7 linked regions of the Homo sapiens genome follow. The protein of the gene in region 2 interacts with the protein of the main gene of each other region in a biochemical or structural test. Each region holds a gene or a part of one and is shown on either strand. Other genes may lie near its edges.

Region 1 (3,500 bases), on a different chromosome or scaffold from region 2:
GAGGTGAGGAGTTCGAGACCAGCCTAGCCAACATGGTGAAACCCCATCTCTACTAAAAATACAAAAATTAGCCAGGTGTGGTGGGGTGTGCCTGTAATCCCACCTACTTGGGACGCTGAGGCAGGAGAATTGCTTGAACCAAGGAGGCGGAGGGTGCAGTGAGCCGAGACTGAGCCACTGTACTCCAGCCTGGGCAACTAAGCGAGACTTTGTCTCAAGAAAAAAACAAACAAAAAAACCAAACTTCCATCTCTATAAAAACTTACTCATTTCCATTGGCTTAGTGATGAAAATGTTTTTTTCAAAAAAGAATGTGTATATTTATATCTCTAATAGAACTACTTCTTTTCACTACACTTCTGAAGAATGTATCTTTTGATGTTGTCCAAAAACTAAATTCTCATTGTCCCTGAAAGTCGCACACGCATTCTTTTTAACATTTTAATTTTTTATTTGGAAAACACTAAAACAAACAAAAAAACCAACAACAAAAGGAGTCACTGCCTTAAATCTCTCCACTTTTATTAAATTACATTAAGAAGTGAAATTCTCTCACAGGCCCTCAACTCATAGCAACTAACTTCAGGGGTAACTAGGATTAGCAGTTTGGTACATATCTTTTGATATGCCCTCCTTAAAAGGGCAAAATGTACTGCTCATTGACTTTTTACCCATACCTAGAACATTCTGAAGCTCTGAGCACTACTTGTCTAAATAATTCAGACTTACTGCTTGCAAATCATGATCCTGTTCCAACTGGTACATCAATTCATTCTTGAGGTCCATGCTTATTTGCTCTGGAGTAGCCTGTAAAACAAAAAGCCAACATAGTCAAACAAAAGCACATAATTCAGCTTCAAAATAAATCCATTTTTTACCTAGACATACTAATCAAATATAGTCTCAAGAGTAAAACACAAGACTCTGATCTCAAAAACAATATTGCACTCACAAAAGCCAGAGGCCCCTCATCAATGTTGCTACTAGTCCAAGGATTCCAGTTGGATTGTGGAGGTGACCAAGGAACCACACCCACTTGGTTTTGTCGCTGAGATGGTTCGAACTGAGCCAATTTGCCAATGTTGAGTGCAACTGGCACAGAAGGATCTTCAGGCTATTAAAAAATAAGAAAAACAAACAAAAAATATGATTTGCTTGTCTACGGAGAGTTCTACGTAAATGTGAACTAAACAGCTTTATGCTTACCGGGGGCAAAATCTCAAGATTTAGCTCTTGAATGATGTTTTGCAGCTGATGCTCTAAATCTTGAGAGAGGTTTACTTTGTAAGGCTCCACCTATGGAAAAAGGATCACACATTAACAACACTACTCAAATCTACTATAATGGGGCTAAGACTATACAGTCAACACTAGGTCTACAATATTCCTAAACCAATAGTCAGTTCCCTTTTGTGAGAGAATTACTTCAATGATTATTTACTCACTGCCTATTATGAACATCATGCCAGACACAGAGATGATTAGCAGGGCCATTTTCATTTCCTGAGGTAAGATTCTTAAAATTAAACTTCTTCAGCCAAACACTAAACAAGAGCTAAATTGAATCTCACACTATCTCACAAGTCTATTAAATCTAAAGACTCACTGTCTCTCCTTCCTTCTTCTTTGTAAGTCCGGAGTAAGCTTCAACCACTCCAAGATGGTACAGTTGTCTGACAAGTGACAGGGCACAGGACTGTGCTGCCAATTTCTTATTTGATCCATGTTCTCGTGCAAAAATCCCTATAATGTAAGGTCAGGATTATCAGACAGAAAGAAATCATCTGAGTAAAGAAACATCTTATCACAAGAAACTATGGGCTTACGTACACAAGAAGCCCTAAAATACAGGGTATGCCATGGCTTCTAGTTCCTTTTTATTCTATTAATATCTGCTAAACAAAAGAAATTGCCAAACAGCTTATCAACTAAATAACCAACAGTTTTGATTACTGGCTGATACTAGGACTCATACAAATCAATATTATGAAAGCAAATAACCTATTTCAACAAAGTTGTCACTGTTAATATCAGACATTAAAATGGGGAAGAAAACATAGTTTGAAAAGACAAAGAGTAAAAAATAAACCAGTAAAAGTAATTGGGTCCAGAGTGGTTACCTAGACCAGGATTTGGGAAACTTTTTCTATAAACGGTCAATTAATAAATATTTTAGGCTTTGCAGGCCATATAGTATCTTGTCACAACTACTCAACTCTGCCTTTAATGTGTGAAAGCAGTCACTGACAACAGAGTTTGATAAACCATAGGACTGGGAATGGCTTTACGTTTTTCAAGAGTTGTAAAAATAAAATGAGAATAACAATGTGTGACCTGTAAAGTCTAAAATGTGAGTGTAGCTATGTTACAATAAAACAGTTCTTATAAAAACAGGCAGTACGCTGGATCTGGCCAGAGGGCTATAGTTTGCTGACCTTAGCATTAAACTAAAGCTAAGTTACTCATATCCTTATAGAAAATATTAACAGAAAGTTTCCTCTCCTCCTGTATCATTCATCCTTAGGAGAGATGAATATAAAGCAAAGGGGTACAAAGGTATCTTTCTGCCTAACTAGCCAAATTAACCTCGATAAGGTAAGTGAGCTGACAGAAGTTAGCCTGCCTTTATCCTCTCTCCCTTAGTATTATCCATCCACTCAAAATAACTCATTGTATATATAAAAATGAAAAAATGTTTAAGACCAGGCACAGTGGCTCACGCCTGTAATCCCAGCACTTTGGGAGGCTGAGCCAGGCAGATCACTAGGTCAGGAGATAGAGACCATCTGCTAACATGGTGAAACCCCGTCTCCACTAAAAACAAAAAATAATCAGCCGGGCTTGGTGGCAGCACCTGTAGTCCCAGCTACTGGGGAGGCTGAGGCAGGAGAATGGCGTGAACCTGGGAGGCGGAGCTTGCAGTGAGCCGAGATCACACCACTGCACTCCAGCCTGGGCGACAGAGCAAGACTCCGTCTCAAAAAACAAAAAAGGTTTAAAATTAATTGACACTGGCAGACTCCTAATCATCCCACTGTGTCTTACCTTTGAAAGATTACACTAACATGGTCTGTTTTCACATGCAAACTGGGAGACTTTGCCTCTAATTTATATAATTACTAATATTCTAAAATATACCCTAGATGCTATCTTACATTATGTGCTCTTTCAAATAATACAGCTTCTGTATACGTGACTCAAGACTTAAAATGTGAAGATTCCTTCTCTATACAGAGACTTGGAATATTGGGGAAACAGTAACACTTACTTCTGCCCAGCTGCTTGATATAAATGGTCATTTCTGCAATAAAGCTCCTGTAACAACATATACAAGCAAGGTTAGAAATTTCACTGTTAGAAACCAGCAAATCCAGGTCTCCCAAGTCAGGCAGGCTTTCCAACTGCTTAGGCAAATCACAGAAAAAAAAAATTACCAACATTTATTTCTGCCCAACCCTAGAACAAATGAAGTATATAAACTTCAAATAATATACAACATG
Region 2 (3,592 bases):
TCTAGGATTCCTGACTCAGGCTGACCTCTCTCTCTGGTCCCAGACTGCCTCCTTGCCCAGGCCTCTCTCACTCTTCATACTCCTCCAGATTTTGTTCTCAGCATTTTCCTTTCTCTGTGATCATTGGCATCCTGGGCGTTTCTTGCCCTCTGCTGACTACTGATTGGATTTTACCTATGGCTTTCTGCAACTTGCTACTCTCTCCCTCTCCATCCCATCTTTGCAGCCTCATAGGGTGGGATACAGCAGCTTTTTTTGCAGTTATCCACACTCACATTTCAGAGTCCTGACTCTCAAGGAACCACTGGTTTTTGGGATAGAACTTGGGCCAGGGCTAGGAACACAGGCTCCACGGTGACATGTCATTTGATTGTAAATTAAGTGTTCTGATTAGTAAGAACTAAGCAGGGGGCCACATGCTCTCAATGGAGACAATAAAGTGTTGTCTTTTTCTTATTGTTTATGTAGGTATATTTCCTATATGGGCATTTTTGGGTAGATTGGGAGGGGTGGTGGGGGTACTTCCTCCAACAGGATGCCTATCTCTCTGCCCCATCAGACCCCGTCTAACAAGAAGTGAACAGAACTGAGACCAAACAGAACATATTGAATAAATATTTAAATCCTGATACTAGAGGTGGCATGGAGGGCCACAAAATTGAAGTTATCCTGTTTCCTGGCATGGGAACAAACTTTCAAAGAGTCACCGGGTGCAGTGGCTCATGCCTGTAATCCCAGCACTTTAGGAGGCTGAGGCAGGAGGATTGCCTGAGCCCAGGAATTCAAGACAGCCTGGGCAACAAAACGAGACTCCGTCTCTACAAAAATAAAATAATTAGCCAAGTGTGGTGGAGCACTTGTAGTACCAGCTACGAGGGAGGTTTAGCAGGGAGGATTCCTTGAACCCAGGAGTTCGAGGCTGCAGTGAGCTGAGATCACACTACTGCACTCCAGCCTGGGTGACAGAGCCAGTGACACCCGGTCTATTAAAAAAAGAAAGAAAGAAAAAAAAGAAAACTTTTAAGGGGTCTAATTTCTTCACTTTTCCATTCTCCCTTTGTCAGGTAGGAGAAGGGAGTAGGGAGTGACTGGACCTGGAAAGGAGGGCTGCAGTAGCTATAATATTGACCCCTTTCCTTTAAAAATCCTACGCCGGCACAGATTTCCCAGACGCTCTCTAGGTGGCCTCAGACTCCACCCCTTTGGTCTTCCGCTTCTGGTTTCCGATTGTAGTGTTTAAATCTCGCGCGCTTTACAAGGATTGGCTACATCAGCGGATAGTTGGCAGTCTGCGTGCTACCCCTCCTCCTCGCCTTTTCTCCCCGGGCAAAAGGTTTTCAAATTCGACCAATCAGCGGGCGCGCTCCCTCAGCCGAGCCGCGACACCCAAGGGTTAACCGCAACCAACCGGAGGCGGGTATTGGAGAAAAGAGCCAATCAGGAGGGCGCAGAGGTGTGTCCTGGGGGCTTATAAAGGCGGCCTCGCGGCGCGCGCGCGACAGCAGTTACACTGCGGCGGGCGTCTGTTCTAGTGTTTGAGCCGTCGTGCTTCACCGGTCTACCTCGCTAGCATGTCGGGCCGCGGCAAGACTGGCGGCAAGGCCCGCGCCAAGGCCAAGTCGCGCTCGTCGCGCGCCGGCCTCCAGTTCCCAGTGGGCCGTGTACACCGGCTGCTGCGGAAGGGCCACTACGCCGAGCGCGTTGGCGCCGGCGCGCCAGTGTACCTGGCGGCAGTGCTGGAGTACCTCACCGCTGAGATCCTGGAGCTGGCGGGCAATGCGGCCCGCGACAACAAGAAGACGCGAATCATCCCCCGCCACCTGCAGCTGGCCATCCGCAACGACGAGGAGCTCAACAAGCTGCTGGGCGGCGTGACGATCGCCCAGGGAGGCGTCCTGCCCAACATCCAGGCCGTGCTGCTGCCCAAGAAGACCAGCGCCACCGTGGGGCCGAAGGCGCCCTCGGGCGGCAAGAAGGCCACCCAGGCCTCCCAGGAGTACTAAGAGGGCCCGCGCCGCGGCCGGCCGCCAGGCCTCCCCATGCCACCACAAAGGCCCTTTTAAGGGCCACCACCGCCCTCATGGAAAGAGCTGAGCCGCTTCAGACTGCGGGGCAAGCGGGCCGCGGCTCCCTTCCCCTCCCCTCCCCTCGCCCGCCTTCGCCGCCCGGCCTCGAGTCCCCGCCCGCCCCCGCTCCCGTCCCGCACCGCCTGCCGCGTCGGCCTCGGGCCCTGCCCTGTCCGCCGTCCGCCCTCCGGTAGGGTTCGGGCCTTCCGGATGCGGCTTGGGCGCTCTTCGGGGACCTCCGTGGCGCGGAAGACCCGAGCCTGCCGGGGGGAGGCCGGCGGCGCCGCACCTGCCCGCCTCGGCGTTCGTGACTCAGCCGCCCCATCCCGAGTCGCTAAGGGGCTGCGGGGAGGCCGCAGCACCTTCTGGAAGACTTGGCCTTCCGCTCTGACGCAGGGCCGAGGTGGGCAGTCCAGGCCGAGAGGCCGGCGGCCCTGAAGGTGAGTGAGGCCCTCGGCAGCTGCAGCCGGGGTGTCTGGTACCCCCCCGGCGTGGTGCTTAGCCCAGGACTTTCAGACGCGGCCGCTGGCCGGGAGGCTTTGGTGGGAGAGACGCGATCGCCGATTTCGGTCTGGCGCCCCTTCTGCGGCCGGGACCCAGGCCTTTCACATCAGCTCTCCCTCCATCTTCATTCATAGGTCTGCGCTGGGGCCGGGACGAAGCACTTGGTAACAGGCACATCTTCCTCCCGAGTGACTGCCTCCTAGGAGGACATTTAGGGGAGGGCAGAGGCCTGCAGTTTGGCTTCACGGCTGGCTATGTGGACAGCAAGAGTCGTTTTCGCGGAAGCCGACTGGCAGCCAGGCCTGTCGGGCCCCCCGACGCCGCCCCATTTCCCTTCCAGCAAACTCAACTCGGCAATCCAAGCACCTAGATACCAGCACAAGTCGGTTAATCCCTGTCTGGACTGAGCCTCCGTTGGCTTCTGAACTGGAATTCTGCAGCTAACCCTTCCACGACTAGAACCTTAGGCATTGGGGAGTTTTAGATGGACTAATTTTATTAAAGGATTGTTTTTTTTTTAAATGGAGCGTTTGTTTTCATTTTGCAAGAGAGTTGTAGAATTAGTGACTTTCTATACTTTCCTGATAATAGGGGTGGGAGGGGCCATGCAATATAAACAGGCTCTACTGTTAACTGAAGGGGCAAACCATAGGAATTTAAGATTGTGGCTCTGTTTCTTGGTGTTCCTGGGAGACAATTTATTCTGTGTGAAATGAAAACTATTGAGGCAGAAGCAGAAAGGACGTACCAGGAGAACTCTGGGCAAAAGTCCCAGCCTCTGAGGTAAGGATGAAAGGGCTTTGTGTTTGTTCCTATCTTCCCGCCAACTCCACACGCGCACACACAACACCTTCAGAACTGGTTTATTAGTAGGATTGGTTACATTCAAAGGCTGTTGCTTGGACTTCTCTAAAGAGATGAAGCCCCCACATACTGAGGAGGCAAGGCAGTCATCAAGGCCCCAAGGTGAGGCAAATCCCTGGAAGGCTTGAACCCTGCAGTTCAGTCTCCCGGGGTAATCA
Region 3 (3,500 bases), on a different chromosome or scaffold from region 2:
AGTGTGTGTGTGTTTTTTTTAAGAGACATTGGGGGTGGGGGTTGAGGGATGGGCTATTGCCCAGACTGGGCTCAACTGATCTTCCCATCCTGGCCTCCCATGTAACTGGGACTACAGGTGCTCACTACTATGCTGGGCTAATTTTTTCATTTTTGTGGAGACCAGGTCTCTCTCTGTTGCCCAGGCCAGTCCCTAAATATTTTCAACCTGCAGCTGGTTGAATTCACGGACGCAAACTCGCATACACAGAGGGCTCACTGTAATCAGAGTATGAAAGAAACATGTAGGAAGGCAAATCAAGAAAGAACGCAGGCCGGGCGCAGTGGCTTACGCCTGCAATTCCAGCATTTTGGGAGGCCGAGGCAGGCGGATCACTTGAGGTCGGGAGTTTGTGACCAGCCTGGCCAACATGGTGAAACCCTGTCTCTACTAAACATACAAAAAATTAGCCAGGCATGGTCATGGACAGCTGTAATCCCAGCTACCTGGGAAGCTGAAGGAAGAGAAACCGCCTGGGAGGCGGAGGTTACAGTGAGCCGAGACTGCACCACTGTAATCCAGCCTGAGTGACAGAGGAAAAAAAAGAGAATGCAGAATTGGGGACACAGAGGAGGGAAGAGTTTCTTATACCTGTTGTCTGGAAGCTGCAATGGGAAGGGCCAAGCTCTTGGGGTGGAGTCAACATGAAGGCCTGGGTAGGTTCATCCTCCATGCTCTGGACTGCTGTACAGGAAAAGATGGCCTAAGTTCATCTCCTCCATACTACTGTAGGGTTCCATTCCTGGTCTCCTACCCTACCCATACTAGCCTTTACCCTTCAAGGACCACCAGTCTAATCTCCCAGCTCCCACTGGTACAGGATTCAAATAACACAGAAGTCCTCACCTTCCAGGCCCTGATTCTCCAGAAAGCACTGGGTAGCTTGTAGGTCCAGATCTTCAGAATCTGGTCGGGGAGGAATATAAGACAGTTTAAAACAAAAATCATACCTGACACTAAACTCCTTAAATAATCTCTACCTTTCTCTCCCCAACCCCAGCTGTTAGAACCCTGGTTGATTTCAGAGGTCTAGGAAGGAAGGCCAGCACTTACCACCATAGTTGTCTTCAGAGTCCTTGGTCCCACCCACATGTTGTTCTCTCTCCCTTCCTGTGGGGACCTGGGCTCCCTCTCTCTGTGGCTGGGTGGATTCCCCTAGAGTGTCTGTGTCCACCACCAGATCTGTGAGGTTCTCTCTTGAGATAGGGAGGTCCTGCTCCACTTGTGCCACAGGTGGCCCACCCTGGGCCCCCACCTCATGAGCTCTCTCCTGCTTAAGAACAGCTGCAGCCCACTCTGCCCCAGCATCCCCTTCTGCTGGAAGCTGGCTCTTTCTTACATCTGCAACTACTGAGGCTGTTAGGGAGGTGCCCTCCTCTGCATCTGTTTCACAGTCCCCATGCAGAGGCCAGGCTTCCTCTAGAGATACCACAAGCAGCTTTGCTGGTCCCCCAACTGCTTTCACATCTGTTTGATTTGTCCCCTCCACAGACACCTGATGCTTCTTTATATGTATAATGGCTGACCCTGGCGGGACTTCCTTCTCCACTTGTGTGTTGATGTCCACTGTGGTGGAGGCTTGGCTTCTCTCCAGGTGGATCCCAGGTGAGCTCTTATCTGCTTCCACACTGTCATCACTGTCCCCAAAAGGAGGTTGGTCCTTTTCTGAATGTGCTCTAACAAGGGCTCTAATCTTTGTGTGATCCTTGAGGACAGCTTCTCTATTTTCCACTGGGAGCTCTTCCTCCTCCACGTCTGTGTCACTGTCTCTCTCAGTGGTGGTTTGGCTTCGCTGCAGAAGGACCACACGTTGGGGCATGTCCTCTTCTGCATCTCTGTTCCATATAGCAGGCTGGCTCTCTTTCAGATGTGCCAAAGTCAGCGCTGCTGAGACTTCTTCCTCGTCATCTGTATCGCTGTTGATAACCATGGAAGCTTGGCTTTTCTCCAGAGGGACAGCCTGTGGGGCCTTGCCTTCTTCCACATCTGTATCACTACCAGCCTGGCTCTCCTGCAGATGGGCCAGGCCTGGTGCTCCAGGACCCCTTGTACCTACTCCATGGAAGATCTTCCTCTTCTTCATAGGAATGACAACTGGGGTTGCTGGGATCCTCTCTTCTTCCGCATCAGTGTCGCTGTCGATGAAGCCAAAAGGCTGAGCCCTTTCCAAATGGACCTCAGCTGGCCTTCCAGGAGGCCTGCTGTCATCATCCACATCTGTGTCACTGTCCTCTCCAGGAGGTTGGCTCCTCTCCAGAATCACCCCAGCTGGAACCACCCCATTCCCTGCACCCCTCTTGACTTTTGTATCATTGTCCCTCTCCTTCACTAAAGGCTGATCCTTTTCAAGCTGGATTTCAGTTACAACTTCAGCTTCAGACTGCTTTGCCTCTACAGTGGCACCTCTTCTGGCAGCTGAGGAGGCCTCCTCTGTGGCTGGTTGCTGACCTTCTTCCACATCTGTGTCACTGTTCAAATTGAAGGCAAAAGGCGGCCCAAGGCCGCCCAGGACCGGGGAATGCCCCTCTTCATCACTGTGAAGGGAAGAAAAGAGAGTCTATAGAATTTATTTCCCTGGAAGGGATACCCCAACTCAACTGTGAGCTCCTTGAGGGGAGACACAAGGTAGCATATTTCTTCTTCTGTTTCCAATTTGTTTTCCACTTGGCACATCAGATGTGCTCCATAAAAATTCAGCTGAGTGAATGAATATGTATGGTTCCCCAGCCCCAACTCTCATGATAATCATCTCTTTTAGAGATTGATCCTCCAGCCCCTGGTTCTTCCTCATTTTGAAGACTCAGGTGTCTGACTCTTTGGCACTCACCTCTCTGGAACTATCACAGAGGAAGATGTGGTCCTTGATTTTTTTACCATACGCCTTTCAGAAAGAAAATCTGTCAAGAACAGAAAGGAATGAGTTGACAATTGTACACTCATTATTCCTGTCTCCTCATTCTCCCTGCCAATATACAAACTTACCTACTTCCTCCTCCGAGTCCTCAGCCAACAGAAGCCTCTGGGGTTGAGTTTCTCCCTGTACTCTGGGTGTCTCTTCTACTGTCAGAGGGCCCCGGGAGACAAAGGGCAGAGAGACATCCAGGCGATGGTACTGGCAGAGCAAGTCAGCAAAGAGAATCAATTCCTGGTCCCTCAGACGGTGACTCACCCCAGGGCTCAAAACCTTAGGAGGTCTCAGGATTTGAGTACCATTAAGGCTCCCACAGTCTCGGAGGATAGGTGCCTTGTCCCAGGCTAAGATTTCAATCTCTGCATGTTGTTTGGAGATAGATGGAAAGGGCAGGGCCACAGAGCAGTCAGGCATTCGGCCTACCACATTCTTCCCGAGGTGTAGTGGGAAATCTAAGAATTAGAGAGGTAGATAAGCTCCAAGATCAGAGTCCTGGCCTGTCATTAGGAAAAAGTGCCTATTAGGTACTCTACTACTCACTCAAGGCCTC
Region 4 (3,500 bases), on a different chromosome or scaffold from region 2:
CTTGCACCCTGTGTTGCCACTTCTGCCTTAGTTTAGTCATTTAGTTGCTACTACAGATGGGGATTTTTACCCTGCTGGTGTTGAGGCTGGAAGGTTGCAAACCTTTGTCCTAGATGGGGACGAGGAGTAGAATGGGAGACAAGCAGTAGCATGTGTTTACCTGGCCAAAGGCCTGCAAAATGTAGTTCACAGAGGTTATGGAGTGTCATTGATGCTATCGTGTGACAGTGTACATTTGATTTTGGAACCAGTATTTAATAAACCTTCATTGTATGCATTATTGTCACTATTGAGCTTTGTCTAAAAAGCACTACCTTATTCTCGTGTATAAGGATTTCTTAGTTTGGTTTTGCTCTAATTAATAGCACAGTTTTGGATTAGTCAGGAGATTGACTTTATAGTTAATTCTAGATAGGGAATGTTTTAGAATGCTTGTGCCGGTGGTGATCAAGTAACTTATTTTTCTGCCACTAATCTGTAAATGAGCAATAATGCCCACTATCTATTTCTTTTGGCTGGCTTTACTTAATAAAATAGGCTTAAGACATGCTTTAGGATGGGGTAGAATTCTAGTAATGGAATCAACCTTAAAGACCATCTAGGCTGGCGGGGCACAGTGGCTCACGCCTGGAATCCCAGCACTTTGGGAGGCTGAGGTGGGTGGATCACGAGGTCAGGAGATGGAGCCCATCCTGGCTAGCACGGTGAAACCCCGTCTCTACTAAAAATACAAAAAATTTAGCCAGGCATGGTGGTGGGCGCCTGTAGTCCCAGCTGCTCGGGAGGCTGAGGCAGGAGAATTGCTTGAACCCAGCAGGCAGAGGTTGCAGTGAGCCGAGATCGTGCCCCTGCACTCCAGCCTAAGCGACAGCAAGACTCCATCTTAAAAGAAAAAAAAAAAAAAGAAAGAAACAACCATCTAGACTAATTCATCTTACACAGATGAGGGAGGAAACTGAGACCCAGAGTGGTTGAATCTTGTTCATGATGTATTATTGTGACAATTTTTTAATAAGTAGATATATAGCAGCATTTCTCAGTTGTGTAGTAGATTAAAACTTCTTTTTCTATGCAGGAATGATTGGGAGTGTTTAATTCATTCACATATGTAGGTTAGTTGGTAAAGGTTGAGTTTAGTCTATTGTGCATATGAGACATAGGGCTTTAAGGATCTTTCCTTTTGGTCAGAGGCAAAGGTGATATTGCAGAAACAGATGGGAAAACTCACAAATTTTATATTTTCTTTTATTACACTTTTAGAATTATCCCTCATTCCCAACATTTTTCTTTTATTTAGGTCCTAAGCCTTAGAGCCAAACAGAAAATACTAGTTACTAGAATATTACCTGGAGGGTTAAACTTTTAAAATATAACCATACTGATTTTAATCAAAGAAGATTGAAATGTTTCGTGAAATATTAGTGGTATCTGTTCAGTGTAGTTAATGAAAGACAAGTAGTCATGCACCACATAATGACATTTTGGTCAGTGGTGGACTGCATGTGATGGTGGTCTTATGAAATTATAATGGAGCTGAAAAATTCCTATCACCTGGTGACCTTGTAATGTCATAGTGTAACACTTTATATTGTTTATGTTTAGTTATACAAATACTTAACATTATGTTAACAGTTGCCTACAGCATTCAGTACAGTAAATGCTGTACAAGTTTGTAGCCTAGGAGCAATAGGCTATCCAATAGCTTAGGTTTGTAGTAGTCTATACTATCTAGATTTGTGTAAGACCACTCTGTGATGTTCACACAACAACTAAATAATTTGATGTATCCCTGCGATTAAGCAACACATGATTAGTATGAAGAATGGTTTGATAGTTGAAGGAAATTAACTCAAAACTCATTTGCTTCCAGGGCTAGTAATATGTTCTACATCATGTATCACCCCACGCCTCAAACTCTAGCCCTGTACACTAACTTATCACAAACCTTGGATTTTTTTGCACAATTATCAAAATGACATATCAAACCAACCGTACATCTTGACATAAAAACAGTATGAGACAAAATGAAATTCTCTTGGGATATTGAAAAAATTTTTTTTGCCTGTGAATTTAGTAATTTTACTTATTAAGAATTTTCAAATGATTTCAGTTCTTAAACTGAAAAATAAAATTCAAAAATTAATTGCATTTTTTCCAGTGTTTCTTCTATGTCTTTATATTGGTAGAACTGTCCAACTATATGGTAAGGATGTGAAATGTTAAATTTACTTGAACTAGAGTTACAATGAACATTAGAATTAATAATCAGACTTCTTTTTTTTTTCTTTTTTTGAGAAGGGAGTTTCGCTCTTGTTGCCCAGGCTGGAGTGCAGTGGCACGGTCTTGGCTCACCGCCACCTCCACCTTCCAGATTCAAGCAATTCTCCTGCCCCAGCCTCCCGGGTAGCTGGGATTACAGGCATGCGCCACCACACCCAGCTAATTTTTGTATTATTAGAGATGAGGTTTCTCTGTGTTGGTCAGGCTGGTCCTCAAACTCCCGATCTCAGGTGATCTGCCTGCCTTGGCCTCCCAAAGTGCTGGGATTACAGGCGTGAGCCACTTCGCCCGGCCAATAATCAGACTTTTAGTAGTAAAATTACTTTCAAAAATGGAGATTCCTTTGTCAAATAGTACTATTATTAGTACTAAGATTGTAAAGAGGTTATTTGTGTCTGATTTTGAGTTTGATGCTACAGAGAAGACAGGTTAGGCCTGCATTGACGTTTTTCATCAAGGGCAGAATTGATGATACAGAAACTTGATTTCTGTCTAGGCATGGTGGCTCATACCTACAATCCTGGTGCTTTGGGAGGCGGAGGCTGGAAGCTCACTCGAGACTAGGAGTTTGAGACCAGCTTGGGCAATGTAGTGAGACCACCGTTTCTACAAAACAAAAAACAGGTTTCTTTAGTTAAGTATAAATCATTGATCTGTGATTAATCCAAACACTTTTTCCTCAGTATAGACCTTGGGGTTCTTCGGTGTTTGACTACCTTCTTTTGAAGGAAACCACTTTTTTTTTTTTTTTTTTTTGAGGCAGTCTCACTCTGTTGCCCAGGCTGGAATGCAGTGGCACAATCTCAGCCCACTGCAACCTCCGCCTCATGGGTTCAAGTGATTCTCCAGCTTCAGCCTCCTGAGTAGCTGGCATTACAGGCATGCACCACCATGCCCAGCTAATTTTTGTATTTTTAGTAGGGGAGGGGGTGTTTCGCCATGTTGCCCAGGCTGTTCTCAAACTCCTGACCTCAAGCGATCCACCCACCCTGGCCTCCCGAAGTGCTGGGATTACAGGCATGATCCACCGTGCCCACCCGAAACCACTTGTAATATACCTTTAGGAGAATGCTTTTAGTTACATCATGATCCCTTTCATGTAGCTAACAACAAAAATGAATATTAACCCCAAATATTGGAACTCGTATTTTGAAGCAAGTTATTTCTTGGTATACTTTAGTGCCAGAATTGGTACTGTTATGTGATTAACTGTTTTTGAG
Region 5 (3,252 bases), on a different chromosome or scaffold from region 2:
TGGGTGCCTGCCTACACAGGACAGTGGTATGTGGTGCTTCAGGGCCTATTCTCCATGCTAAAAGGCCAAACTTGCCCTGAAACCTGCCACAGAGATGCCCTTGAAGGCCCCTGGGTAGAGCTGGGTAGAGGCCCAGGACAGCTTGATCTCTAAGGAACTGGTCCCTACATCCTGAGGGCCGGTGGGTGGTGGTAAAAGCAGCAGGCTGCAAAGGCTTGGGCTACCCAGGTCCTAGAGATGTGAAACGCCAGTTCTGGATCTTGGGATGGGCCAGCGTAGCCTGCTGGATCTCCTGCGTGGAGGTTGAGGAATGTGAGGAAACACCCAACATTGCTACCTCAGTAGGTAGCAGTGCGTAACCCCCTCCCACAGCATCTCATAAAACCTTTGAAACGCTTTTGACACCTTTCTAGAACATCAGCTCACAATGGTTGTGTTTTGCTCATTGCCATACCAAACACCTAGAGCAGTGCCTAGTAAGAAAATGGGCATTTGATAACTATTGCTGAATTGAATTTATTGAATACATGCAGAGTACAAACGGCCCCAAATCACAGCAGGTTGAAGTATTCACAGAGCCTGAAGGAAAGTGGACAGCAGAGATAGTGGCTCTGGAAATTGGATGAGGTGGGCATCTGGAATGTAGTAAAGCAGCAGCAAGCAGGAGATACTGCTTGGCGACTAGATGAGCTCAGGTAGCCCATCACTGGTACATTGTTTGGGGATGCTGTAGACAAAGGAATGACAGCATTGGAGTATTTATTGAATGCCTATCACAGGCTGAGCCCTTTCCTAGGATTCATATGCTTTTCTCAATGGAAGAATCAAGAAGATAGTTCATTATTTCTCCTTAATACAAGGCCCCATCGTCTTCCCAAGAACCCCACACTCCTACTGCCTCAACTCCCATTTGTTGGAGAAGCTGAAAAAGCTGACCAGGTAGGAAGTTTCTTTCTCTGAATGAAGCTAACTAGGGTTCAGAACAAGCCCTTGACCTATTGTGACCAATGGCAGATCCTGTTCCAATCAGGCCCCACACCTATGAACAAGTCTGTATCTCAGAGCAAGAGACAGATAACAATTCCAGGATTCTCCTGATCTTAGATTAGGACCACAATACAAAGTAGACATTCCTTCTTACTTTCTATGTCAAATTTAGCTAATCACTGGATTCATCAGAAGCCTAGGGGGTTCAGTGTCGAGATAAACATACCTAGGACACCCCATGTTTCTGGGTTATCCTTAGATACGATGAGGTGGAGAGATTCCAGTCACAGAGAGAGGCTGTAAAGAGCAAGCAGGCAGTTGGAGAGAGCTACCAATCCCAGACACTCCAGCAGTTATGGTGACTGCCTGGATGGTCACTCACAGAGGAGGAAAAAGTAGTGAGAGAACTGGAGACAAGGGGGAAATGCAGGTCTTTCTGTACAACAGCAGCTTCCAATCAGAGAAACAGATGATGGGTATCCAGCTATGCAATCCACAAAGGACAAAGTCCCCTGCTTTGGCACAGTCTGATTGTTGGGATGAAACATGCCTAGAGGTAGAGTGAGCCCTTTCTAGGTTAACATAACCAGATATGGGACACCTGCCATTCACTGCAAAGTGCTTCATATAGCTGGCTGCATTCATCTGCTTAATAAAACCAGATAATGAAACAAACCCCCTTTTCCAGTTCCCCAGAGCCCTGCTGTAAAGAAGGTGCCTTTAATTAGAGTCAGACTGCACAGCACTGGGGCTCAGCTGTACTATAGTTTGATGCTGCAAGGCAGAAAAGTTACCGTGTATTTTCTAGGCAAGTAAAATGCAGATGATGTTTAATATCAGATATCTCTCCAAGGAAAGAACATTCTGTAGCTCAGACAAATAATGCAAGTTTGGGTTAATTTTTGGTTTGTCTTTTAAACATAGTACATTCAGGCTTTTGTTTGTGATCAGGGCAATAATGACAGATATAATTACTTAGAGATGAAGAAACCAAAACCAAGACACAAGGAGGCTGAGTAACTTGCCCAAGGCTCACACAGTTACTAACAGCAGGGCCAAGATTCAAACTCCGCTAGTCTGGCTTTTAATGTTGTTGTATTGATTTATTACTCTTTTTAGTCTGTCTTTAAGAGCTCACTTTCCTAGATGTTGTGGAACACTTGAGAGGGATGTGGTACTCTGAAAGGAGGGGCTGCAAATCACTCTATGTCCAGCAGCTGTGGGATGGAATGGTCAGTCTGTGAGGTCAGTCTCTGTACATAGTCTTCAGGCTCAAGTCAAGATGTCTCTTCTTGGCCAGGTGCAATGGCTCATGCCTGTAATCTCAGCACTTTGGGAGGCCAAGGTGGTAGGATTGCTTTAGCCCAGAATTTCAAGACCAGCCTAGGCAACATAGTCTCTATTAAAAAATAATAAAATAATTTTTAAAAAGGTATTTCTTTTTAAAATATCTTCTCTCTAAAGATATATGTACAAGGGTGTTAACTGCAGCATTGTTTTAAGAGTAAAAAGGTTTGAACCAACCTAGATTTCTATCAAAAGTAAGCCAGAAAAGTAAATGATGGTGCAAATACACAATGAAAAAACAGGCAGCTGTAATAAAGAAAGGAAACTATGTACTGACATGGAACTGTTGCCAACATATATCTGAAAAAAGCAAGGTTCAGAATAGCGTACAGTTTACCATTTGTGCAAAGCAAGGAAAAAGACCACATGTGTTTTTGCTTGTATAGACAGAGATCTCTGGAAGAATATACAAGCAACTGTAATACTTGTTGCCTCTGAGTGGGAAGTAGTCGCTGTGGGGAAAGGGTGAGAGGCATTTCATTCTACGCCATTTTGTACCTTTAATTTCAAACTATGTGAACATATTGCCTACTCAAAAAGTGTATGTCTGTACTCTCTTAAAAATGAATTACAATATGTAAACTAAACACAGAACATATAAAAATTGACATATACCCATGCAATCTATAAACAAAACACATGTATGGGGAAACAAGAAGTTATTAAATCAAGGTGGTAACAATCTTTTCCTTTTGTTCTCTATTTTTCCAGAATTCTTATGATGTGGTTATAGTAAGTACTTTTAAAGCATTTTTTCCACATTTAACTTACTTCCTCCATGACTCTACCAGTATTTTGATCAGTAATCATGGGCAGAAGAATGGAAATGAAGACTAAGGACTCCAGAATCCCAAAATTCACAGTATATTCAACAAAGAAAAAATCCCTACCATCCTTAAAAAGTTGGCAATCAATAGT
Region 6 (3,500 bases), about 62 Mb from region 2:
ACTCAGGCTAGAAAGGGGCAGGTAACCACTGTGTTCACTATGCTGTTCACCAAAAGAGGCACTTCTGGTGTTGTTTTAAACCAGTAGGATTAAGCCTGCCCTGAGCTTCTGAGAGTCACTGGGCACCCCATGGGGTAAACCTATTTTTAATTAAGGAAATCGGAAGAAATAGATTTGAGCGCCTGAATCCAGTAGTGTCTGAAGCCAATTAAATCCCCAGACTCCGCAGTAATATGAACTTATGAAATTCCCTTTTATATGTTCCCTTTTAAAGTGAGAGTGAATCACATTTCTGACACTGCTAACAAAAAGTCTTAACCAATTTAGCAGGGGTACTACTGCATTTCTACTGATGAGGAAATTGAGATTCAATGACTTACTCGACAACCCCCAGCAAGTAAGTGGCAAGCACCAGCTCATTCCCATTCTCTCCTCATCCAACTACGAACCAGCCCCAACTGGCACATTCAGGGCGGTATGGCCATAGATCCCACTATACTTTTCCGACTTCAAAATATGTCTTGCACTTACAAAGCCCTTGACAATTTCCAAAACATTTTCGTATATCACCTCATTGGAGGTCACTCTCCCATTCTGGGTCAGTAGCTAATGCTGGGACCTGAGAAATGTCCAGAAATCTTCTGGTCCCTTAAGCTTATGGGTCACCATCTTATCCCCACAAGGTACCACCAAAACTCACTCCTCTGCCACATCTTCCTCCTCTTCACCTGGGTTGAATGACTCATCTGAAAAAGGGCACAGGATGCATCAGCTTCTGCCCCAATGGAAATCCCCCCACCTCACCCAGGCACCCAGCTCTGGCCCAAGGGTGAGTCCAGCCCGGGCCACAGCGAGGAGCGTCTGACCATCCTCGTGCTCAGCACGGAGGCTAACCCACCGGTTTCTTCTCCTGAGTCATCGCTGCTGTCATTGGCATTCTCCTCCCGGATCTTGCCTTCCTCCTTCATCCTCTCCAAGTAGGCATCATGCTGGTCCTCATCAGAGTCAGCATATTCATCGTAGCTTGGGTTCATGCCCTAGCCAGGGAAGAGTTCACGGTGGGGCCAACTCACCCTCGAGCCAGAATCCCTGCACACTCAAAAGCACACCCCCATGCCTGTCAAGTCAGAGCAGCAGCTCCCAGAAGACCTGGGGCTGGATTGTCCACACACAGCCAACGTGCAGGGCCTATGCCCAAGTACTTCCTGCCAACTGGGTTAGTCCAAGCCCCAAGCCCCTCCCTCTCCCAGCCCCACTGGGGGCTCCTGAGGGGCTGCATAGACTGGTCTAAGGTCATGCAGAGGAAACCTGCACCAGGAGGGGGAAAGGGTCACACGCACCTCTTTTTTCTATAAGGGTAAGAAGAGAAGAAAGAGTGAAAAAGAAGCCGGAAAAAATCTCCACCCCTTTCTCCCCTATAGAAAGACCAGGAGAGGGTCTCATCCTCCCCACACAGAAGTACCTCTTTCAATCCTCGGTTTTTGATGTTGAGCTTTTTCGCGTTGACAAAATCAAACAGTTTCCCGTACTCCTCCCTGTGAGGGGACATGCACCATGTTACCAGAGAGGTAGTGCCAACACAGGGGCACACTAAACAATGTTCTGATTCCATGAGCTGGGGTAGACTGTGGAGCCTGGAGCTCTTGACTATGCTACCCAACCCAACAGCTTAGAAACCCCCAGAGGACAGCAGTAAGGCAGAGCCAGAGCCAGACATTAGTCCTGAAAGAACTGCATGGCTTTGAAGAACTCTGGGAAAGGAAAGGCAGGGAGGGGTGCGCATCTGTTTACAAAATAAGCTCAGAGGGGAGTAAGTGTGGGGCAGGGGACGTGGTCATCTTTTTTCATACTTCACAAGGTTGATATGAGGATTACACGTGAAGATGCTTATAAAACGTTTAGTCCACAGTGAGCACTCAATAAGCATTAGCCGCTATGTTCTCAGGCACAAAGCTCATTCCAGGAAAGAAAGAGATAGCATTTCCATCATGGTGGGGAGTGGAGGAGAAAAAAGACCAGTAGCGAAGACATATAGCTTTCAGAATACGGAAAAAGTTTTTTTTGTTTTGTTTTGTTTTGTTTTTTTAATGACCAGAAAGAAAGCAATGGAGAGGTTTCTAAAGTCTGAGCACTCCAGGGAAAAGGACCAAATCCTGATGTAGCAAAAGAAAAATTCTGCTCTAGGGTTGGAGAGTGCCCCAGGCCACGCCAGCCTTCCTAGACAAAGCTGGCTCGGGACCAGGATGCCCAGGAAGTGACAGGTGGAGGTTCTCACCTCTCAATGCTGCTGAAGGTATACTGAGTGCCCTGCTTGGTCTCAATTTCAAAGTCAAAGGAACGAGTAGTAGTGGTACCACGAGCAAAGTTGACAAAGGAGATCTCATCGAAGCGGATGTGCACAGGTGGCTTGTGGACGTAGATGAAGCCCCGCTCCAGCGGGTAGAGCAGTCCTGAGCTTGCCTTGTAGGAACAGGTAATGCACTGGGCCCCTGAGTGCCTGACAGAGGGTGCAGGGAGCCTGGTTAGTGCCAACCTCAGCAGAGGCAAAGGGCGTATCTAGCAGCAGCGACACGAGTGCTCATGTCCTCGACTAAGTAAACCTCACTGAGCTGTTCTGACAGAGGCGCTGGCACCTATTGTGACACAAGGTCCCATCCAGGCCTCTAGGAGGCCGCATTCCCATCTCAGGAAGGGTTTACCAAGGAGACACGGCATTTCCCATACCCAGGCAGGGCAGGATCCCAGGCCCACACTCTCACCCTTGGAAGTTGCCTGGCACTGTGATCTTGCGGTTTACCAGTGCTTTCATGACCCGGCTGACCATCTCATAGAGGGATCCTGACATGTTCTTGGTGAGCCGACCCTCAAAGCGCTTCTCCACTTCTTCCCTACAAAGAAAGCAAGGTGAGGTCACAACACTACTGCCTTCTAATGGCACACCTGTCTCCTGCCTGGACAGTGGTAGGAAACGAGTCCAGGGAGACACTCACTCGTTCATGTTCAGAGTCAACGAAATGTCCTCGTCCTTGGAGAAGAGGAGGATCAGGAAGTGGTAGCGAGTTTGGCCTTGCTTGATTGGGGGATCCAGGCTGATCTAGTAAGGAAGAGTACTAATTGACACTCTACAACAACTTGCAATTAACCAACGTAGAATTCTGCACACCAGTGAGATCCATCTACTTAACACTTAGGCAAAAACCAGGATTATCCGGCCATAGGGGTTTCTGCTTACCACAAAGAACATCTGGCGCTGGTCCTTGTGGGGTAACAAAAACAGACGCAGTACTGTGGTGTAGGGGATCTTGTAGTCAAAGGTCTTGCCATGCAGGTGCAGAAAGGTGGGGTAGATCCGAATGTCATAACGACCACGAGGAGTCAGACACTGCAGCTCCCGGAAGATGCAGATGGCATCTCCCGTGGCCTGGATTACATCCGCCTTTGACAACACATTCTGGGCAAAGGCCTGCAAAAGCACATATTGGTAGCCAAGCAGCAGGCCC
Region 7 (3,500 bases), on a different chromosome or scaffold from region 2:
AATATACTAAAAACCACTGAATGGTATACTTCAAATGGGTGAATTGCATGACACAGAAATTATATTTCAATAAAGCTGTTATAAAAGAGATTCAAACAGATAGTTGTCCCATTTTTCAAAAAGGGAAATAAAGGAAATTATATCAGTTATAGACTGGACAGCCAAGCAAAAGTCAATGATTAGTAGTGGTATATAACTACTTCAAAAGAAGTAACAATTACCAAGAGCAGGTAAAAGTTCATTGAGAAATACTATTTCCTTCCATGAATAAAAACAACAAAGAACAATAGCAATAAATCAGAAAAATGCAACCAGACACAGTATATGAAGATTTCAAAATGGCATTTTACAAAATGTTTCTAATAATAACATCCATGTGAATAAGATGATGAATTGGAAACAGCTGGATAACTGTGATAGTTAGACACGTAATTTCTGCAATATGCTCAAAAGTTGCTAATGAATTAATCCAGCTATTACAAAGATATCCTGAGCAAAACTGGGAAGTGAAGCCCACAAGTGAAAAGTCAGAACAAGGAAGAAAAAAGCAATCACAGCAATCACTAGTAGACCAGGAAGAGCAACCACATTTCACCTTTGAAATTTAATAGGGAGAAACATGAAGTACTATACTTAATTCTCCATAATCAAAAGAAAAAATATAAAGACTGGGTGAGATGGGAACTGTAAGGCAGGCCTGTAACAAAGAAAGACAACGGGAGTCAGATGGGGACGAAATTTCTAAACAGGGTTTTAATGTCTACAGTTAAGAGATGACATGCCTCAGCTCCTCTCAGAGGATTTGATCAGACGTGCAGTACTGTGTGCTAGGTGGCTTATGCAGTAGTGTGTGCTAGGTCACTTTCAAAGTGTGTTCAGAGATAAACGGCCAAGATTAAAAAAGAAACTCAAGACCATCTATGAAAAGAATGAGAAAAACCAGAGATGCTTAGACCAGTGAAGAGACAATCTGTACAGAGGATGAAATTGTTTAAAAGGCAAAACACTACAAAAACATCCATCCATGGGTGAGTGGAATAATTCAGTTACCATTTCCAGTTTTCCCATATTTAGCTTTATACTCACTCACTGAACAAATATATTCTGAGTACCTACTCTTGTCCACACTCTTCTAGGTGCTGAGAGTTCTGCCTGGATAAACCTCTGCCACCCCTGCTAGAGGCCTAATCATGTGAGACATGCTTAGTCATACTCCATGCAGTTGAAGGAACCACCTTTCTTTGCAGTCACCCAGGCTTGAGAGGTAGGATTAACTGAACTCCTCCCCAAGGAAAAACTAAGGCAACACCACCACTGCCATGGAACTGCGTTCACAGGCCACAAGGGGCACGAGCAGCTCTATCCATGGACAGGATGCCACCAGCAAAACTGTGATGAGCAACACATCAAGTTCCCGCTTGGAACAAGAATGGCTACCACAACTTCCTCCCTATTATTATCTAAGTTTAATCTTTGTCTCTGGACCTTTTTTACGTCATTCTTCCTCTCTGAAGGCTCCTTTCCTTCAACAATCCAATTTTTACCCCATCTTTAAGAGTCAGCCTAGGTCTACTCCTCCCCAAAGCCTTCCCAGTTAATTAAAGCTCACAGAAATCGTCCCTCTTTTTAGATTTCAATATATGGGCCACCATCATCATTTGACAAACGGCCACTGCTTTGTGATGTTTGATATTTAACTCTCTGTATGTCTGTTTTGTATTCAAAACACCATTGTAAGCTCCCCAAATAAAGGGCCTAATCCTGAACTTCCATGATTTTTTTTTCCCTTGATAATGAACCCAGTAACTCCAATACACAGAGGCCTGCACATATTTAGATCTCAAAATGTGGTAAATTGTATTATCTGTAGTCAGAAGGTACTGTGCTCATTATATTATATAAACTCTTTTGGACAAACACTACGAAATGTCTTTAGTCAGATGCCTTCGGTTTAGGACTGCCTAAAAGTGTCCCTTACACAATTCACTCCTAGTTTATTTCCTCAACTGAAGAAATCATTCCATTAGAACAATCACAAAAGTATGAATAAGCTTAATGTAAGTTTAAAAAAGTATAACTGTTTATTCTCAAAATGAGTGCAACTTATATATCTTTATAAAGACTTATCTTTGCAATCATTAGAAAATAGAATTAGAAACATGTTAATACCCTCTAGATAGTTTCAAACACTTTCTGCTAAACCCACTATCCTCATCATAAAGTGATCAGTGAATACTGCCATCACTTAAAGAGGTGGGAGTGGGGTAGGGAGAAGTGATATAAATTTTATATTCAATATGATTAAAGTCAGAGTGTCAAAGCATAATGGGAACAATTTCATCTCTGTGCTAATGCTACAGTTTTCTAAATGTCAGCCTGACGGAGAACAAAAAGCAGAAGATGAGATCAAGCTGAATAAAATTCTTCTCAAACGCTTATCTTTTTAAAACTCCTTTTGTAAATTAAATGACAGGAAATCATATAATCTAAATTTTAGAAGCCATTCTTCTGATACAATTTAATAAAGTTGAGGAAAATCACCCTGTAGATATATATATATATATATATATCCCTTTTAAACAATGTTTTAATACAGAACAATTTAAAGCCCCTAATATTTAGTCTTTGATATTCACATATTCATGAATAAATCTTGATTTCATCTATACTTAGGAAACCAAAAATGTTCACTTACATTTTTGTGATTAACACATTTCATAAGAACTAGCTCTCTGTAGGCCCGCTTGGCATGAGTCTGATTCTGAAATGGTCGGCTTAGCTTCTTGATTGCAACATTTCTTTCAAGAATGGCATCATAAGCTGCGCTGTAATAAGAAATTCAAAAACACACAAAAAAACTTCAAGCAAAAATCTGTAAACTGAATTCATGAAACAGTCATATACATTTCTCACTTTCTCCAAAGACAAGTAACTGGATCCCTTCCAAGTCTATGACGCTCAACATGTGTCTTCTATATCTATTACAACATATATTTTTTTGCAACTATTTCCTAAAATGCTAATGGATCCAAATAGACAGTGGACTATGCCAACAGAGACCCTGCATGTTCGTTGTGTTGCCTCAAAGATCCACCTAGTACATCGTGGGCACTCAATGTACAAATCCATAATTATTTAGCTCCACTAGATAGCCTAAAGCCTAAATAAATCCTTAACCTTGTACTTCCATCAAGAAAAGGTAGGATAAAGAATGCATACGAGGCTGGGTGCAGTGGCTCACGCCTGTAATCCCAGCACTTTGGGAGGTCAAGGTGGGTGGATCATGAGGTCAGGAGATCGAGACCATCCTGGCCAACACAGTGAAACTCCGCCTCTACTAAAATACAAAAAAATTAGCTGGGTGTGATGGTGCACACCTGTAGTCCCAGCTACTTGAGAGGCTAAGGCAAGGGAATCACTTGAACCTGGGAGGCGGAAGTTGCAGTGAGCCAAGATCGCACCACCGCACTCCAGCCTGGTAGACTCCCTCAAAAAAAAAA

What was found.
Region 1: the proteins of H2AX (region 2) and DHX9 form a complex in vitro, tested with the Homo sapiens proteins (one study listed by BioGRID).
Region 3: the proteins of H2AX (region 2) and MDC1 form a complex in vitro, tested with the Homo sapiens proteins (5 studies listed by BioGRID and IntAct, with this or other methods).
Region 4: of the proteins of H2AX (region 2) and PPP2CA, one has a biochemical effect on the other in vitro, tested with the Homo sapiens proteins (one study listed by IntAct).
Region 5: of the proteins of H2AX (region 2) and RNF8, one has a biochemical effect on the other in vitro, tested with the Homo sapiens proteins (2 studies listed by BioGRID).
Region 6: the proteins of H2AX (region 2) and SSRP1 form a complex in vitro, tested with the Homo sapiens proteins (one study listed by BioGRID).
Region 7: the proteins of H2AX (region 2) and MAPK8 form a complex in vitro, tested with the Homo sapiens proteins (2 studies listed by BioGRID, with this or other methods).

The regions. Positions count from the first base shown.
Region 1 is NC_000001.11:182,856,347-182,859,846, reverse strand, and holds part of DHX9 (ATP-dependent RNA helicase A), read right to left. Parts: intron 3,316-3,500; coding exon 3,269-3,315; intron 1,744-3,268; coding exon 1,607-1,743; intron 1,297-1,606; coding exon 1,207-1,296; intron 1,115-1,206; coding exon 953-1,114; intron 808-952; coding exon 730-807; intron 1-729. UniProt on the Homo sapiens protein: Multifunctional ATP-dependent nucleic acid helicase that unwinds DNA and RNA in a 3' to 5' direction and that plays important roles in many processes, such as DNA replication, transcriptional activation, post-transcriptional RNA regulation, mRNA translation and RNA-mediated gene silencing.
Region 2 is NC_000011.10:119,093,374-119,096,965, reverse strand, and holds H2AX (histone H2AX), read left to right. Parts: upstream 1-1,500; 5' UTR 1,501-1,571; coding exon 1,572-2,003; 3' UTR 2,004-3,092; downstream 3,093-3,592. UniProt on the Homo sapiens protein: Variant histone H2A which replaces conventional H2A in a subset of nucleosomes. Nucleosomes wrap and compact DNA into chromatin, limiting DNA accessibility to the cellular machineries which require DNA as a template.
Region 3 is NC_000006.12:30,710,782-30,714,281, forward strand, and holds part of MDC1 (mediator of DNA damage checkpoint protein 1), read right to left. Parts: intron 3,403-3,500; coding exon 3,022-3,402; intron 2,937-3,021; coding exon 2,867-2,936; intron 2,574-2,866; coding exon 1,093-2,573; intron 946-1,092; coding exon 886-945; intron 724-885; coding exon 631-723; intron 1-630. UniProt on the Homo sapiens protein: Histone reader protein required for checkpoint-mediated cell cycle arrest in response to DNA damage within both the S phase and G2/M phases of the cell cycle.
Region 4 is NC_000005.10:134,216,074-134,219,573, reverse strand, and holds part of PPP2CA (serine/threonine-protein phosphatase 2A catalytic subunit alpha isoform), read left to right. Parts: intron 1-3,500. UniProt on the Homo sapiens protein: Catalytic subunit of protein phosphatase 2A (PP2A), a serine/threonine phosphatase involved in the regulation of a wide variety of enzymes, signal transduction pathways, and cellular events.
Region 5 is NC_000006.12:37,391,983-37,395,234, reverse strand, and holds the end of RNF8 (E3 ubiquitin-protein ligase RNF8), read right to left. Parts: 3' UTR 501-3,252; downstream 1-500. UniProt on the Homo sapiens protein: E3 ubiquitin-protein ligase that plays a key role in DNA damage signaling via 2 distinct roles: by mediating the 'Lys-63'-linked ubiquitination of histones H2A and H2AX and promoting the recruitment of DNA repair proteins at double-strand breaks (DSBs) sites, and by catalyzing 'Lys-48'-linked ubiquitination to remove target proteins from DNA damage sites.
Region 6 is NC_000011.10:57,329,393-57,332,892, forward strand, and holds part of SSRP1 (FACT complex subunit SSRP1), read right to left. Parts: intron 3,464-3,500; coding exon 3,233-3,463; intron 3,095-3,232; coding exon 2,991-3,094; intron 2,889-2,990; coding exon 2,760-2,888; intron 2,498-2,759; coding exon 2,276-2,497; intron 1,536-2,275; coding exon 1,463-1,535; intron 1,350-1,462; coding exon of another isoform or gene 1,218-1,349; exon of another isoform or gene 1,038-1,217; coding exon 899-1,037; intron 747-898; coding exon 701-746; intron 1-700. UniProt on the Homo sapiens protein: Component of the FACT complex, a general chromatin factor that acts to reorganize nucleosomes. The FACT complex is involved in multiple processes that require DNA as a template such as mRNA elongation, DNA replication and DNA repair.
Region 7 is NC_000010.11:48,404,177-48,407,676, reverse strand, and holds part of MAPK8 (mitogen-activated protein kinase 8), read right to left. Parts: intron 2,826-3,500; coding exon 2,696-2,825; intron 1-2,695. UniProt on the Homo sapiens protein: Serine/threonine-protein kinase involved in various processes such as cell proliferation, differentiation, migration, transformation and programmed cell death.